Linked DNA regions of Homo sapiens: region 2 is linked to region 1. Evidence: fine-mapped expression QTL. A gene starts in region 1. The other region holds a variant in brackets. All regions are shown on one strand. Distances are from middle to middle. Region 1 holds the start of SELENOI (selenoprotein I). Region 2 overlaps OTOF (otoferlin).

The links. PIP is the estimated chance that this variant, and not a neighbour inherited with it, causes the effect.
Region 2: its variant is fine-mapped to the expression of SELENOI in spleen (GTEx, PIP 0.97).

What each region holds. Positions count from the first base shown.
Region 1 is chr2:26,341,644-26,350,214 of GRCh38, forward strand. It overlaps SELENOI (selenoprotein I), which reads left to right and starts at 4,500. Exons shown (of 10, transcript NM_033505.4): 1 at 4,500-4,646. The coding sequence starts at 4,590. ADGRF3 (adhesion G protein-coupled receptor F3) reads right to left here and starts at 5,146. Exons shown (of 14, transcript NM_001321971.2): 1 at 4,478-5,146. The coding sequence starts at 4,591. RefSeq lists enhancers at 3,965-4,104, 4,425-5,192, 5,305-5,404 and silencers at 4,315-4,544, 4,595-4,654, 4,715-4,764.
Region 2 is chr2:26,509,805-26,518,066 of GRCh38, forward strand. It overlaps OTOF (otoferlin), which reads right to left. Exons shown (of 47, transcript NM_194248.3): 5 at 6,614-6,795. Among named protein-coding and RNA genes, the nearest start is that of OTOF, 45 kb to the right of the region's middle. RefSeq lists an enhancer at 1,545-2,468. The variant A/G (reference allele first, on the strand shown) is at 4,366.

The sequences.
Region 1 (8,571 bases):
TATAATAACTGGGGAGTTCCTTTTTGTTTTTTTTGGTAGAGACAGGGTCTCCCTATGTTGCCCAGGCTGGTCTTGAATTCCTGGGCTCAAGGGACCCTCCTTTCTCAGCCTTTCAGCATGCTGGAATTTGATTAAAAACTGACTTGTGAGCTGGGCGCGGTGGCTCACACCTGTAATCCCAGCGCTTTGGGAGGCTGAGGCGGGCAGATCACGAGGTCAGGAGATCGAGACCATCCTGGCCAACACGGTGAAACCCCGTCTCTACTAAAAATACAAAAAATTAGCCGGGCATGGTGGCAGGTGCCTGTAGTCCCAGCTACTTGGGAGGCTGAGGCAGGAGAATGGCGTGAACCCGGGAGGCGGAGATTGCAGTGAGCTGATATTGCGCCACTGCACTCCAGCCTAGGCGACAGAGCAAGACTCCATCTCAAAAAAAAAACAACTGACTTGTGATTTTTTTTTTTTAATATCTTACCATCAACTTGTAGAAGCATAGTGTAGTGGAAAATTATTCAACTAAAAGTCTGATGACCTGTGTTCCTCTTTCCTGGGTGACTTTTGGTAAGATATATTACTATTCTATTGTTCCACTCTATACAATTGGAACAGCCATCAGGCCCATGGCTCAGGATTGTTAGTCATGTGAAACTGCTTTGAGAACCAGAGTTTATGTGTATAAGGCATTCATTTTTATTTTAAAATGAGAACTAAATCAATACCTTTTTACAAACTTCTTTGGAAGACCCTGCCCATTTTTATGGCTTCAGTAACTTATATTGGAGTTATTAACTACATTAGTCCTTAATTAACCTCCAATATTTTTTGGCTGTCTCCATTTATCTGATACACTCTTATTCAGACTAAATAAAACAGGCACTCCAGGAACTTAAAACACTTTATTTTGGTTATATTATAAAAATAAAAATATTGTTTCTAGCACGAATTGATATTTTCTATGATTATTATTCTGGAAGGCAAAATGCCTGATCTTGAGTGTACAAGATGTAGAAGAAATAAACTTCAATGGATGAAGAGGCAGACATGGGAAACAAAGCAATAATAAACTACACTCAGGAATGTGGCGTGTAGAGCACAGATGGGAATAACAAGGCCAATCTAAAGCAGTCCGGGGCAGCTGGGCTGCCTTAGGGAAAAATGCCTCCTGGAATAAAATTTGGGAACGAGGAAACAGAAAGGTGACTTAGTTCCAAAGGCAAATTTGTTTCCATGACATTTTTCTCTTCCCACGTGACCATGCCTGCCGGGTTTAGGATTCACAGAATTCTGCGAAAATACAGTCATGCATCACTTAATGACAGGATATGCTCTGATAGTAAATACAAAAGCCAGTAAGACAGTTAGTTATTATCAAGTATTCAGTAGTGTACATAATTATATGTGCTATACTTTTAGATGACTGGCAGCGCGGTAGGTTTGTTTACACTAGCATTACCACGAACGTGAGTAATGCCTTGTGTTACAACATTTTGACAGCTAGGATGTCACTAGATGACAGAAATTTTTCAGCTCCACTATAATCTTAAGGGACCACATGTGGTCCCTCATTGACGGAAACATGGTTATATGGAGCATGACTAATATCTTAAATTTGTATGAATTTAATTGAACAGACTGGGGCCATATCATTGTAGGTAAGACAAGATTTCCCAGATGAGATGACTTAATCTCAGAGAAGTTATATGATATACAGTTTCACTGAATTTCAGAGATGAATAGGATCGTAGTACCTAATAGGTTCTAATGGATCGAATTAGATCTTAGGATCAAATGATCTTTTTTTTTTTTATTTTTTTGAGACAGAGCCTCGCTGTGTCACCCAGACTGGAGTGCAGTGGCGCGATCTCGGCTCACTGCAAGCTCCGCCTCCCGGGTTCACACCATTCTCCTGCCTCAGCCTTCCGAGTAGCTGGGACTACAGGTACCCGCCACCACGCCCGGCTAATTTTGTTTTTATATTTTTAGTAGAGACGGGGTTTCACCGTGTTAGCCAGGATGGTCTCGATCTCCTGACCTCGTGATCCGCCCGACTCGGCCTTCCAAAGTGCTGGGATTATAGGCGTGAGCCACGGCGCCCGGCCCAAATACCCTCTTTTTGAAAAAGAGTACTGGGGCTAAGTGAAGTAAGTTGTCTGAGATTACACAGCCAGTAACATGTCAAAGTATAAACCAATTTCTGGGTTATGCTTCAGCTTATAAATTATCAGATGAATTTATAATTGATTCAAACTTGTTACAACCTTATGCAGAGAAGCAGCAAATTGTAACTGCTTTCACAAAATTAAAAGTTACTGTTTTAAAAAGTGCTTTTAAAGAAAATATCAGAGGTAGAAAACAATTTTAAGAATCAATCATGTCATTTTGAGTTTGCTTATATCTGAACTGATAAACAATAAGTGCAGTTTATAAACTATTATTAGCTTGCACTGAAGTCACATTTTATGGCTTTCCACAATTAACTAAGTTTTACAAGTATGAAGGGTTTTTTTGGTTTTGTTTTTGAGACGGAGTCTTGCTCTGTCGCCCAGGCTGGAGCGCAGTGACACAATCTCGGTTCACCGTAACCCCACCTCCCAGGCTCAAGCGATTCTCCTGCCTCAATAACCTGAGTAGCTGGGACTACAGGCGCGTGCCACCACACCCGGTTAGTTTTTGTATTTTTAGTTGAGACGAGGTTTCACCATATTGTCCAGGCTGGTCTCAAACTCCTGATCGCAAGTAATCCCTCCACCTCAGGCTCCCAAAGTGTAGGGATTACAAGCGTGAGCCACCGCGCCTGGCCGAGACTCTCATTTCTAATGTTCTTCTCAAAACTGGTACTTCACAGCATATCAAAGAGATCTTTGCTCATTCATTCAATAAAATACGTTGATCATGTATTATTTGCAAGCCCCCTGGGTTATGGAACATGGGGAAAATTAAGATGTATAAGATGCAAATACTGCCCTCGAGGGCAAGTGTGATAAAGGACACTGAAGTTTATTGGTTGGCGGGCGCCCATTCTTCAAAAAATGCAAAAAATTTAGCCGGGTGTGGTGGTGTGCGCCTGTAGTTCTAGCTACTTGGGAGACGGAAGCAAGATCACCTGAGCCAGGGGAGGTCGAGGCTGCAGTGAGCCGTGATCACGTCACTGCATTCCAGCCTGGGTGAGTCAGTCCCTGTCTCAGGGGGCGGGGAGAAGCTTATTATCTACCATATACCAGGTATAAGATTATCTATTACTTTCTAAGAATCATGCTTTAGGAGGGGAGATTAGACATGTAGTAATAATACTGTGTTTGGCATATCTCGGGTCCCCAATAAATAGTTGTTAAACGAATGAACATAAAAGTATCTCAAAATAATCGCCCTTATTTCAGAGACCCAGAGAGACTGAAAGGCTCCCTGAAGTAGTGGTTTCCCATAACACAGAACTCATTTCATGTTGGGTCGATCATTTCCGAGCTTCGTAACTAAGTGACTCTGGGCAGGCTGCCTAATCTGAAAAAGGGGATAATGCCTTTCACTTCAGTGTTGTTATGGGGTTGATAATGTATGTGAAGTTCTCCCCACAGAAGGCGCTCAATAAAAAGCAGCAACTATTATAAAATTTTATTAGTAGATACTCACTAGCCATTGATCTAGTGTTTTTTGTTTGTTTGTTTGTTTTACAATTAACTGGGCTCCAGTTATGTAAAACACCTCTTGCAAACGCATTTAAGGACTCGTCGAGACTGAGAGATCACTGCTTTTATCTGGTCGGGAGACACCAGCAATCTTAATTTGGAACGGTTTGATAGAGCGGAGTGCGATGAGGCGGTCCAAGGTTCCTAAGCAACATAGACCTGAGGGGCTTGTCTCCAATGTCCTTTCACCTGTCTTTCAAGTCCCTCTGCTGACCGCACAAAGACTCCCGTGGCCCCGGCAGCAGCTCGGCCTTCTCTACATCTAACCACGTTTACTAAATTTCTACGGCACGCAGCGCACCGCACCAGGAGCTGGGAGCGGCTCGCGGTACAGACCTCCTTCCTCTTTTACTTCGCTGCAGCGGGAGAACTAAGTCCTCTTACCTGAGGCACTGCTGAACTGGTTCGCAAGCAGTCACTCTACCCCCAAGACTAAAACGGTATACCCCAGATCACCACGCAAGTGCGGATACCACAGAAATCCCACCTTCCCCCGGGACCGGGAGCAAAGCCCGCTGGGAAATTGACCTTTCACCCCCTCTCTTGCCTTACCTCAGCTCACCAATTTTGACGCTAGCAAATGAAGCGACGAAGAGAGCTGGAAGGCGGGACTTAGTGTTGCCTGATCCACGCCGATTGGACAACAGCAGTGTCGGGGGACGGGCCGCTCGAGCGGGCTAGCAACCCCCCCTCGATGGGCGGGGAGAAGCGTGGGCTGCGCTTGCGCACTGAGAGGCGGCCGAAGGGGCCGAGGCGGCTACGCGTGCGCGGTGGGCGGAGCGCGGCTCTCCTACCTTCTCGGGCAGCCCAGTCTTTGCCATCCTTGCCCAGCCGGTGTGGTGCTTGTGTGTCACAGCCTTGTAGCCGGGAGTCGCTGCCGAGTGGGCGCTCAGTTTTCGGGTCGTCATGGCTGGCTACGAATACGTGAGCCCGGAGCAGCTGGCTGGCTTTGATAAGTACAAGGTACCGCGGGCCGGCGGATGCCCCTCTCCCTGCTCCCGGCCTCGCCCAGGCGGCTGAGGGGCCCGCGCGGCGCGGTCCGTGTCACCTTGTGCCGCGTGGCTCCGGGCGGGCTGGCGGGCGTTCCTCCGGAGGTCCTGCGGGTCCTGGGGATTGGGGGTCGGGGAGCGTGGGAGCATCCTAAGCCCGCCGCCCGTAGTCGGCACCCCCCGGGAGATTTCCTTTTCCTTAGGAGAGCGCTCAGTGATCATGGAGCGAGGGAATTCCCTTCCTATTTTTTTTAAACTTATTATTTTCGTAAGCCCCCGAAAGGATGGAGTTCCTTCTGTTGTGTCAATCGCCTTCATTTTAGTGAAGTTTCCACTCGCCTGTCATGCATACAACTTCGGAGGAGGAGATGATCGTTTGGCAGATGAGGCCCGGGAGGGGAGCGACTTGCCGATGCCATCCTGCTGATGTCTCCACTTCTGCTCCCGGCAGGGACTTCCTAAGCGGCAGCTTGTGGCGCTAGGGCCACCAGATGAAAGGGAGGTGCACAGGAAGGAGCTGTGGAGTGGAAAGAGCGCGGGCTTTCGAGCACATACAAACCTGATTACAAAAGTCAGATTTCTTTATTTCGTCTTGGGCACGTCATTTTAACCCCGCTCAGCCTCTCTTTTGTGTATGAAACTGAAAGTAATAGCTTCTGCTGTGCAAAATGATTAGAGGAATTTGTGAAGCGCTTGGCAACATACTAGGACCCCAGTAAATAAATGCGGGTGGTTAACTTTCCTCCAAATCTGGTTCCCATCCGCAGTTCCTTTACCAATGAATGACTCTAACCATCCAGTCGACCAAGCCTGAAATATGGGCTTTAACCCTTCATCCTTGTTGTTACCCGTTCATCTTCACATCTTAGCTTAAATATTGCTTCCTCAAAGAAGCCCTCCCTACGTGCCCCTTTCCCCCTTAAATGTGCGCTCTGTTCGTTTATGGAATTGCTGCTTTAGCGTGTCTCGCCATTAGAATATAATGCCCAACTCATTAGAGTTTTCTTGTGGACCATCATGGCTTAAGCACAGTGCTATGTGCATACTAGGCACCCAGTAAGCATTTGTGGAATGAATGAATAACTGAAAAAGTCATAATGGATTTTGTTTAACTCGAGTTAAAAAAAAAAAAAGCAAGGGTCCTTAGAAGGTCACATAGCATGTTTCTCTGCTTTCAAGCCGTATTGTGCCATACCATTCTGAACCGAGGTGATGACTTGTCTTAACATTTTAAGTGGAAAGAGGGTCCAGAGCCTTCTTGGTAACTCGGGCCAGTGCTTTTCAACTTTCATTTTAGAAGGCTGTTAACCCAGATACCTCCTGTTTTGCCTTAAGCTCTACTCCCCTTTTGTTGTCTGTTCTGCAGGGTAAATATTGACATATAAAACATTTTCTTCCTTACTAGGGTCTGACTTTCTAAGTGCCAATAAAATAGCTATTTCAATGGGAGCAGTGTTTATAATAGGAAATCTCCTTTTTCTTATAAAGAATCTTCCCTAGATTTATATTTTCAACTAAATAAGTGTCTTAATTTACTAGAAGTTTCGTGTAATTTTCTGTTCTGATCTTTCCCCCTTTTTTATTATATAAGTTCCTGTATCTGACAGCAGATGACTTCCTATCATCCTGGAAAACAAAGGTCGATTTAGCAAGCGTCCAATGTTCACTAAAATAGTTTGTTGATATCATTTTAGTTATAATGAGGCTTCCTTGGGGAAAAAAAAGCACACATTTATAACCTAAATATTCTTCTATTGCAATTACTCAATACTGCATTTATATTAAAATTATGAATCCAGTGGTATCCAAAGGAAAAATCCATGGGATCAGTTTTGCTTGAACACAAATCTCACAGATCTTTTTTTCTTATCGTTGCGTTCCCCTTATGTTGTCTTCAGATAGTAAGCGCTTTATAAATGCTTATTTTAAAAAGTCTTTTTTCCCCATAAATGGGTAAAGATTGAAAACACTCAAAAGATATTTTGTATTCCCTCATGTGATGCTTTATAAGAGGGATGTAAAGAAGAACTGACACTACAAAAGCAGTTGGTGGAAAAATTACTTTTGAAGTAGTTTAATTTATCTTCCCTAGAGGTATATCTGAGAGCTACAGTTGGAAACCTGACAGATATACAGAATAACTGCTGAAAGGGGTGCACACGGGGAGTGGAAATTAGGTTTCTGAAGCAGGAAACTATAAGACAATTGATTTTTGGTATGGAAGAGCGTGGGATGGATTCTGTGTTATGTATTGACACTTGCATTCGCTATTGTGTTACTTAACGCAATTGTATTAAACAGTTAGTTGACTATTAGTTGAATGTCTACTTTCTCTTTTAGGACGTGAGCTTTAAGAGGGCAGGCCCTATGGCTGACTTTTTTTTTTTTTTCTTTAATAACATGACTGAGGTCTAGCACAGTACCATGAACAGAGTAAGTGCTAAACAAATATTGAAGGAATGAGAATGTAAAAGAATCAACCATTTTGGAAGTATGGTTAAAAAAAAAAAAGGAGCTCTATGTCTGGATATTGAAAGGGTGCTTTTGTATTTTAAATGTGAAGATATCAGGTTTAACTGCCATTGTTCTCTGTTGCTTATTAACTAAGGTAACTTCAGAGAATTATACTGAAGGATTTCAGCCTTATTTTTGCCTCTACCCATCCTTTGTTTTGGACAGGCTTTTTTTTTTTTTTTTTTTTTTTTTTTTTTTTTTTGGAGATGGAGGTTTGCTCTTGTTGCCCAGGCTGGAGTGCAATGGCGCGATCTCAGCTCACTGAAACCTCCGCCTCCTGCGTTCAAGCGATTCTCCTGTCTCAGCCTCCCGAGTAGCTGGGATTACAGGCATGCACCACCTCACCTGGCTAACTTTGTATTTTTAGTAGCGGTGCATTTCTCCATGTTGGTCAGGCTGGTCTCGAACTCCCAACCTCAGGTGATCCGCCCTGGCCTCCCAGAGTGCTGAGATTACAGGCATGAGCCACCACACTTGTCTTTTTTTTTTTTTTTGAGATGGAGTTTTGCTTTTGTCGCCCAGGCTGGAGTGCAGTGGCGCGATCTCAGCTCACTGCAGCCTCCGCCTCCCGGGTTCAAGCAGTTCTCCTGCCTCAGCCTCCTGAGTAGCTGGGATTACAGGCGCCTGCCACCATGCCCGGCTAATTTTTGTATTTTTCTTTGAGACAGGGTTTCACATGTTGGCCAGGCTGGTCTCGAACTCCTGACCTCAGGTGATCCACCCACCTCGGCCTCCCAAAGTGTTGGGATTAAAGGCGTGAGCCACCGTGCCCAGCCCTTGGACAGGTCTTTATAGTTGAGGGATTTTTCCCCACTTATCTAAGGGTGAAACTGCAAGTTGGTTTTTTTTTTTTTTTTTTTGTCCTGGTTTGCTCATCATTTGGGAAGGCAAAGTTTTAATTGATAGTGTAGCAGCTACTTTGAAATTGTATCATTTTGCCTAAGGGAGGAAATATTCTGTGAAATATCTTGTTTGGTTGGTTCGAGAAAGTTATTTGTCTGGGCACAGTGGCTCATGCCTGTAATCCCAACACTTCCGGAGGCTGAGGTGGGAGGATGGCTTGAGGATAGAAGTTGGGCAACATAGTGAGACCTCATCTCCACAAAAAAAAAAAAAAAAAAAAAAAAAAATTAGCCAGGCATGGTAGCACGTGCCTATGGTCCTAGCTACTTGGGAGGCTGAAGTGGGAGGATCAGTTGAGTCTGGAAGTTGAGCTGCAGTGAGCTATGATTGTGCCACTGTTTTGCAGCCTGAGCAACAGAGAAAGACCCTGACTCAAAAAAAAAAAGTGTGTGTGTATAAATATATATATAGTTTCATGATGAACTGGTTTTTGATATTATGGTAATTAATTAACTTGGCTCTCAACAACAGCCTGATTATAG
Region 2 (8,262 bases), 170 kb after region 1:
CAGTCAAGTTCTCTAAATTTCCTGGGTCTATGGTGAGCTCTGGGTCAGAAGTCAGCTTCCCTGTCTTCTGGTTCCAGCTCTGCCCCTGTTCTGAGACAGATTTGTCATCTGTAAGAGCAGGTGTTAACCAGAGGCCTCCTCCAGTATGGTCCACCTTGGCTACCACTGCCCTTATGAGATCCCGTAATGCTAGAGTCCTCCAGATGTCAGTGTGCTTCTAGGGGTGCCTACAAGACCCATTCACAACTCCCAGCCTTCGAATCTTTCCAGACCCTTGTGACCAGCCCCTCCCACCTGCAGGACCCTTCTCCTGTCCTCTCCAGACAGCACCCTGACCTCATTTTTCCAGGAAGCCTTTTGGGGAGATGAAGATAGAGAGGGCCGCCCAAATGGTGGCCTCTCCTAAGCTTTCTGGGGGTCTCCAACTCCACCCACGACCTGCAGCTGCAAAGGGTACCCAGAGTTCCTCCTCCTTATGCCTCCAGCTGCCTGGCCCTACCTCGCCCCTGTTGGGAGAGGGATCCCTGAGGTCCTCATGCCCCTCTCCCCTTAGCCTTTAGCTGTCCCCTCCCTCCCAGGGAAGCCCGAAGGCCACAGGATGGGGGCTGAACAGTGGAGGAGGAACAAGACACGGAGAGGAGGATGGTCACCCCCGAGAGCCCAGAGTGGAAACCAGAAGGTCTGGCCACCTCCCCCGCGACCCTAACCCCTCCTCATCCCTCACCCCCGTGGCCAGGTGAAAAGGCCTCCCTGGGCCTCCATGACCCGTGCCAGCTCTACCACGACAGCCCACTCCTGAGCCCTCTCAGCCGAGCCCATCCCGCCCTCCACAGCCTGTGGGGAGGAGGCCTCTGTCTCCCCAGAGACGCTGTTGCGTCTGCCCTCGCCTGGGACACCTACTTGTGCTCGTCATCTCTGCCTCCCTTGGTCTTCTCTCTGCCTTTGCTGAGTAGGGGGAAGAAATGAGGAGACAAGGGGACACGTGTGAGGGGCTGTGGACCAGAGACACTGGCCTCAGCCCCGGCCCCACGGGCCTGCACGCTCCCCGGGGGCCTCCTTGTCCCACAGACCTCTCACCCCACAGCTTCGCACGGTAGCAAGCCTAGGTCTGCAGAAAAGGGGTCCCATGGCCCTGGGTTCTGCCTTGGGGGAGATGGGAGGGGCCCACAGTGCTGGGCCTGGGTGGCCACTATTCCAACCCCAAGCTCTGATACCTCAGGGCCTCAGCTCATCGCCCCTACCAGGCTAAGATCTGATGATTCCACAATGTGGGTCGCAGCTTCCTCAGGGAACACAGGGTTAGATGAGCCTGGCCACCCTCCCGGCCTGGGCCACCCTGCTCCTCTGCCCACCGGCTCCCCTGCTCCCCTGCTCCCCTCCAATGGGGTGGGAGCTCCCAGGCTCTGGGGGCCTCTAGGGGAACAGTGGGCTAAGCCTGCTCTGTGAGGGTGAGGCAGGGCTGGGGGTCCTGCTATGGAGTGCACACGGGTGGTTGGGGGCAGTTCTAGGGGTGTAGGTGGGGCGGTAAGTGAGCTACCACTCCAGGGCTCAGAGCAGGGAAAAACGGCCCCCCTATCTCACTTTAGGGAGGCTTCCAGAAAACTTTTCTGGAATGTTCTCTCAATGCTTTCCCAGTGCTGTGGCAATGAGGATGAAGACAGGAAAGTGAATAACAATTAGCAAATTATTCCTCTCCTCACACCCTGTTCTGGCACAGGCCTTGCCCAGGTAGACTTGACTGCATATCCTGATGGCTCAAGACCTGAAGGCCTAGACACAGCACAGCTGCAGTCCAGCGCTGGCCAGCTAACCTTTACGTTGGGCAAGCAGGTCAGTCTGTAATTCAAAGGTGTTAACATCAGCCAGGCCTCGGCTGCCCACATCAGCTGAGACTACTAAGCGGAGAAGAGCTCACAGCATAGGAGGAGGAATGTGTCTCAAGCACAAAATCCCAGTGCGCCCGGCTGCCCCGGCTCATCTGAGCAGCTTTGGGAGCTGCTGCAACTCTGGGGCTCAGCCTGGAGAAGGAAGGCAGCAGAGGATTTTCTAGCTCTCTAGGGGCTGTGGAAACCGATTTAAAAACACTCTTGGGGTAAGGCTGCATGTACTGGCCCCACATGCACACACTTCTGCATGCCCACTCTCTGCCCCTCTGTCTCAGAGCCCCACCATGCACACGTGCCCCACTGCCCTCTGGCCCCAGCATAGGAGGAAGTTACCTGGCTTCTGCAGGCCTCCACTGGAGTGGAAGAATGATCAATAAGGAGAATGAGAAAAGTGGCTCCTGCCCCAAACTCCTCCCAGATGAGACCCAGCAGAGAGGAGACCAGCAGAAGAGGGTTTGGGCAGCAGAAGGAGGTGGGGGTCGTGGAGGGCAGGAGAGCCAGGCCAGGTGGAGAAAATGAGAAGAGGAGATAGTCGCAGAATACTGGGACTCAGGAGGAAAGGCTCAGGTCTCTACAGTTTAGCTGCAAGACTAAAGCTGGGATTTCTTTCTTTGTCCTCTCTAAGATGTGACTCCTAAAGACAGCATCAACAGCAGAGCCCAGAATCCAGAGTCCTCCCTGGTGTCATGCAGTGCATGTGAGTGTGTGCAAACACATGGGCACTTGTGTACACATGTGTGTGCATGTGAGTGTGGTCAGGGCCGAAGTCACTTTCTCTCCAGAGACTAGGGCAGGCATACGCTGCCATGCAAGGGTCTGGAACACTGATTTTGTGCTGCTGAGAGTGGAGCGCCCATGAGGTTAGGGATTCATTACATCTCTGCAACACTGAGAGCCTGGGGAGGTGAGGGGAACTTTGAGTAAATGAGCTCCCTATACCTGCCCCTGGGCCAGTAAGGCTCCTGTGTGGGCAGCTTCTGCAGAGCCCTTGGTATAGGGTGGGGAGCAAGAGCTGAGAAGGTGCTTGGACAGCACCTGAACAAGAGGGTCAGGTGCTGCTCGGGGTAGAAGTTGACATCAGGGTAACATGGAGTCAGTGAAGAGGAAGGAAGTGAACACTGGCTGAGCACCTGCCACATGCCAGGCACAGGGGTGGATGACTCGCAGGTGCACCTCACTCAATCCTGGCACTTCTGTGAGGCATCCTTGAGCCCCATCTCACAAATGGGGAGGGGGGTTCCCAATAGCAGAGCTGTGAGTGGAGCCTGTGCTCTGTCACACAGCACAGCTTCCTGGCACATTACCGGGGGCATTGTGCAAAAAGCCGGCAGAAATCAGGGCTTCGTGGCAGGAACTAGAGAAGTGGGCAGAGTGGCTCAGAGGGCATGCGGCTGACCAGGGCCTAGGGGAGGTGGAATCGTTGGGGCAGAGAGTCAGTGGGCGGTGGGGTTGGTGGTCATTCAGGCAGAGCCCCCATACTGATTCCCTGAGGAGGAACGGGGTAACTTCATGGCAGATTCTTAGGGTCTTAGGAGTGAGTGTCACAGCAGCTGAGGCCTGAGGTCCACACTGCCCCTGCTTAGAACCATCTGACCCCCAGAGTGAGGACAGGATGAATGTGGGTGAAGTCCCAGAGAAGCAGGCCAGGCAGGGCAGGGCTGGGGGGTGGACCCAGGCCCTGGAGGGAGAGGTGAGGAGTGCCCAGAGGATCTCCTGGCATCAGCCTCCCCTCCATCCGTGGAAGATTCCAGCCTGGGCTGCCCGGGGCCTGTCTGGGCTGAGGCTGTTTCCTGCCCACTCAGTCTACCTCCCCGCAGCCCCCAGCAGGCCTTCATTTCACCCCATCAGCCAGGGAGCGGCTGATCCCCACGCCGGACCCTAACGGTCAAGATGGCCGGTGAGACACTGCTGCTTGCCAGCAACGGGATTTTCCTCTTGCTCATTGTGGCTAAAGCAGGAACAAGAGGGAACTGTGGTTATTGAATACCCTGATCTATAAGGGGATTGGCCTTCCCAGGAGAGGATGGAGGGCAGGGAGCAGATGCAGGGGAAGCCTGCCTGGGCTCCTAACGGGGTCAGAGGTGAGGCACTGACACCCCTTCCCCGGTGTTGTCCTCTTTAAGGAGTAGGTGTTTTCCTGATAAAAGGTTGGCCAAGTCCCTTCTGGAGAGCTCTCTGGCTTCCTCCCAGAACCCACACTATGTGACAAGGGTGAGATGCAACATCTAGGGCTGCGGGGCCAGCTTCCAGGTCCCCCTCCTCACCTCAGCACTCCTTGACCCAGAACTCAATGGCCCCATATGGGCAGCCAGGATTAAGCTACAGGAAAACCCCAAGTTCTTGAACCCGCTCCACCTTCTCCTCACCAGCAAATGGCCCATCTCTAGAATTTTTCTCAACCCCTCTTTTCCACAACCAGGCCTGCTGGCTGCATGGCTAGGCCTGGCGGGAGAAGGTGTAGCAGCGATGCCTGTCCCCA[A/G]TGTGCTCTCAAACCTGGGCTGGCAGCCCCAGTGGCAGCAGGGAAACTGTGCTCCTGCACACTGCCCCTGCAATGCAGGGTGGGGGTGCCTGGCTTCGGCTGTCACCCTCTCCCAATTCCCAGTCCGGGGTGAAGCCCCTCCTTTTGCTCCCGCTTCTTGCTGCTACCCTGGGAGGGGCCACACGAAGATGGGGAGAGGTGGGGAAGCCACCAGGCTGTGAGGAAGGGTCGGGGGAGCCCTCTTATCTCCAGATTCCTGGTGCCTAGGGCTCTCTGGGACTCTAAGCTCTCCAGAGCCCCCATCAGCACCCTGGCCCACTCTCTTAGGACTGAGTGAGAAACTGGCTCTGTGTTGCTACGCCACCCCAGGGAGGTTGCCTTCGTGGCTGCTAAGGGCTCCCAGGATGTTGTTTCCCATGGATGTGACCCACAGGTCCGGAGCATCCATGGGTCCCTTAGGACCTCAGAGTTGGAGGGGAGCCAGATGTAACTTGCTGAACCCATTCCTGTCACTGACCTACAGGGGCTGGTGACATGCCCAGTGTCACTCAGCCAATGAGTGGCACAGTCAAGATGGGACTTAATGGGCCTTAGCTCTCCTGATTTGGGGTCAGCATTCCTTTCCCTGTGACTGATGGCCCTTGTGTGGCTTCCGATCTTGTTCTCTGGAAGCTCTTTCTTAGAGCCCGGCTTCTGGTTTCTGGACCAGCCCTGCCAACCTCTTTTCTGAATGGAGACAGTCGAGGAGGACCAGGTGGTGCCCACTGAGTCAGCATCCCTTCACTCCCCGTCTGAGCACTGCTCCTCTTCTCACAATTTCCAACCCGATTCCTGACTCTTTGCATTGTTGTGCTACAAGAAACCTGTTTGTCTGTCACCAGCCTGGACATGGGCAGCGCTCAGCACCTCCATTGCCACCTGTTCCTCTGTGATCCCTCCGGCTCTCCCAGCAGCAGGGCAGGGGGATTTCCTTGCTATGTCCTTCTTTGCAGGTGAGGAGAGAGGGTCAGAGACTTGCCAAGGGTCACACGACTAGTAAGAGGCAGAGCTAGGACTCAGGCCTGGGTTTTCTGCTAAAGAGCCAGGAGTCTGAGGGGACAGGCTTTAAGCTAGCCTGGGGCTGCCCCATGCCCGTGGCTGGCCTGGAGTAGACAGTCCCGCCATGTTTGTTGCAGGCCTGGTCACTTTGACCTTGTTACTATTACTCATCTGGCTCCCAGGGTTTCTGAAGCTTGTGTGTGTGTGTGTATGTGTATGTGCACACGTGTGCACTCATGCACCTGTGTGTGAGGGGTGCTTAAGGGGGTGTGAACTCATTCAAGTGCAAAGGAGAAAACATATTTGTCCCATAAAAGTATGTCAGTTCAATTACACTAATTTAGAACCTATGGTTTCTTCAGCAGAGGGACTGAGTAAACTTTACTTGGAAAGGAAAGCGTGGAAGGAGCTTACAGGGATATGTTTCCAGTGGCACGGAGGGTCCCTTCTCAAAACACACCCTGGTCCTTCAGATGCACCCTTGACTTACTGGCATTTAACACATAATTCCTAGTGACTTAGGAACCCATGGACAACATCTTACTAGACTAGCCCAGATTCTGTCCCCTTGGTCTCTAATAGTAATACAATTGCATTTTCTGTTTTGTAAAAATAGTGCACGTGGAATGAGCTGTCCTGGATCCAGCTTCCTGTGATCCATAGGTGGCAGGACACTTGCAGGGCGTGACGCTGGATTCTGGGGGTTCCCGGGTACCCTCCCTTCTCAAGAGGAAGAAAGGCCAGGGCCCAGCCAGGATCTTTGGCTTCACTCTGGCAGGAAGAGCTGCCCTCTCTTGGGCCTCCTCACTGGGCCAGGGTAGAGGTCAGGCTGCCGGCACCTGGTGGACACTGCTGGGTCTTGAACCAGAGAGGCCAGGGGCCCTCCTATCCCCAACTCCCCTTCTCTGAGAAAGGCAGGAGATCTAGCCCCATCCCTGTGTTAGAGCTCCACCTCCCTCAGGGCCACTGGGGAGGCCTTGGCCTTGCAGCTCCATCTGAGTCTCCTGCTCCCTGCCCAGTGACCTCGGGGGTGGACGGCTGGGTGGGGGGCTACAGAAACATCTTCCCACCCCTTGGATGTCTCTCCAGAAGCTCAGCCCTGTACTCTGAGCCCAGCTAGGCCTAGAGAGGCCTGTCAGTAGGACCAGGCCCCAGGTCTCTTCCCCGTGTCTTGGGAGCAGTGGGCAGCCAGAGGGGTCCTGCCTGTTACCTCCGGAAGCTCTTCTCTCCTGGGGGCCGGGAGCTGGGCCGGGAGCCTGGGAGCAGTCCATCCGTCTCTTGGCTGTCCTTCTCTTCCTCTTGAAGAGACTCATCTCCCAGGAAGTCCCCATCGTCCCAGGAGCCCACTGTGCCGTCAGTGGCCTGATACCGGACCTCCACGCACAGGCTGGTCTGAAGGGAGGGAGGCGGTGGTGAGCAGCTGGGATGGTGACAGCAATCTCCACCCCGTATATGTGGCTGCTTGGTGGTGTTTACACAGCGCTTCCACACCCTTGCCTCACTGGAGGAGGTCAGGATGGTATGATCCCCTCTGCCCCATTTTGCTGATGAGAAAACAGAGGCTCTGAAAGGCTGACTTGTGCAGACCGGGTCAGCTTACTGGTACCTGGCTCCAGGTCCCGCTGCTGGTGGTTCCACTCCTCCCTGGTGCTCAAGGTGGAGGGGCCTGGCCTGCCCAGGACAACTGAGCCTGGACTCACCCCCCGAGTCCACTGTCTACATAACCGAGAGTGTCGTTCAGCATCCCCATGATCAGGCCACCTCCTCTCCTCAGAACAAGGGCTGCCTGCAGGCATGAGGCGCGGCCCGCCAGAAATCGGCTTGTTGGAAATGGACAGAATGAGCTGAAAGTGGCCTCCGGGAGAGGAGCCCAGGGCCCAGGCTCACACTCACCCTTCCTACCCTGGAGAGGGAGGGAATCTTGGGAGCTGCCCTAGGGTTTTCCTCTGGCAAAAAGTAGAGCACTCAACCGGGCTCAGGCTTAGCAGTGGAGAGTCATGATTGGGCTTCCTGCTCTGCGTCCTGGAGCCATTACTTTCTTGCAGCTCTAGTTTCCCCCCCAGTGCACAGGGATCACCCTTCCTCACTGGTCTAGAGGTGACTTGGTCCTGTGCCCCAGACAGGCGGCCCTCACTCAGTGCTTGGATGCTCCAGCACCCAGGCTTAGATTTCCCAAGGGAAGGGAAAGGTGCACATATTTTCTGAATCCTCACTGTGCTAGGCATCATGCTAAGATGCTTTAATGTACACTCATTTGATCTTTTCAACATTGCAACCTACCTTACCTAGCATATCAGGAGGTTAAGTTACTTGCTTTAAGTCACACAGCTAGGAAGTACTGGAGCTGGGATCTGAGCCCAGGCTGCCTAACTCCAAGCCCCATGTCCTTTCTGGAACAAATGGGACCCTCTTGGTGGAACCAAGTATGTTGTTATGGGAAAATGGTGGTCTCTGGCATTGGAAGTCCTGGGTCTCCGTGCTGGCCCTGCTGTCAACTGTGGCCGAATCCATTCCCCATCCAGGACTTCATTGTTCCCATTCATAACAATGGGTAGCGGAGATGGGTGGCAAGTGGGCTAGGAGATCCGTGAGTCCTTTCCTCTGCTGACATCTTAAGTCTGATTCTGAAAATCCAGGGCATGGGCTGTGCTGTCTGTCCATCCCTGCTCACTCCCCAATTCTCTTATCTCACTTCCCACACTACACTCTTCATCCAGGTTTCTGTGTTCTCCTCCCAGCCCGCCTTCCCATGGGTGTCCATACATAGCTTATTCTGCACCCCTTCTCCCCTTGCTGTGGTGGCTGAGACCCCGGTAACTTTAAGAAGCCCTCCCTGCCACCCCTGCCCATGGGAGAAGA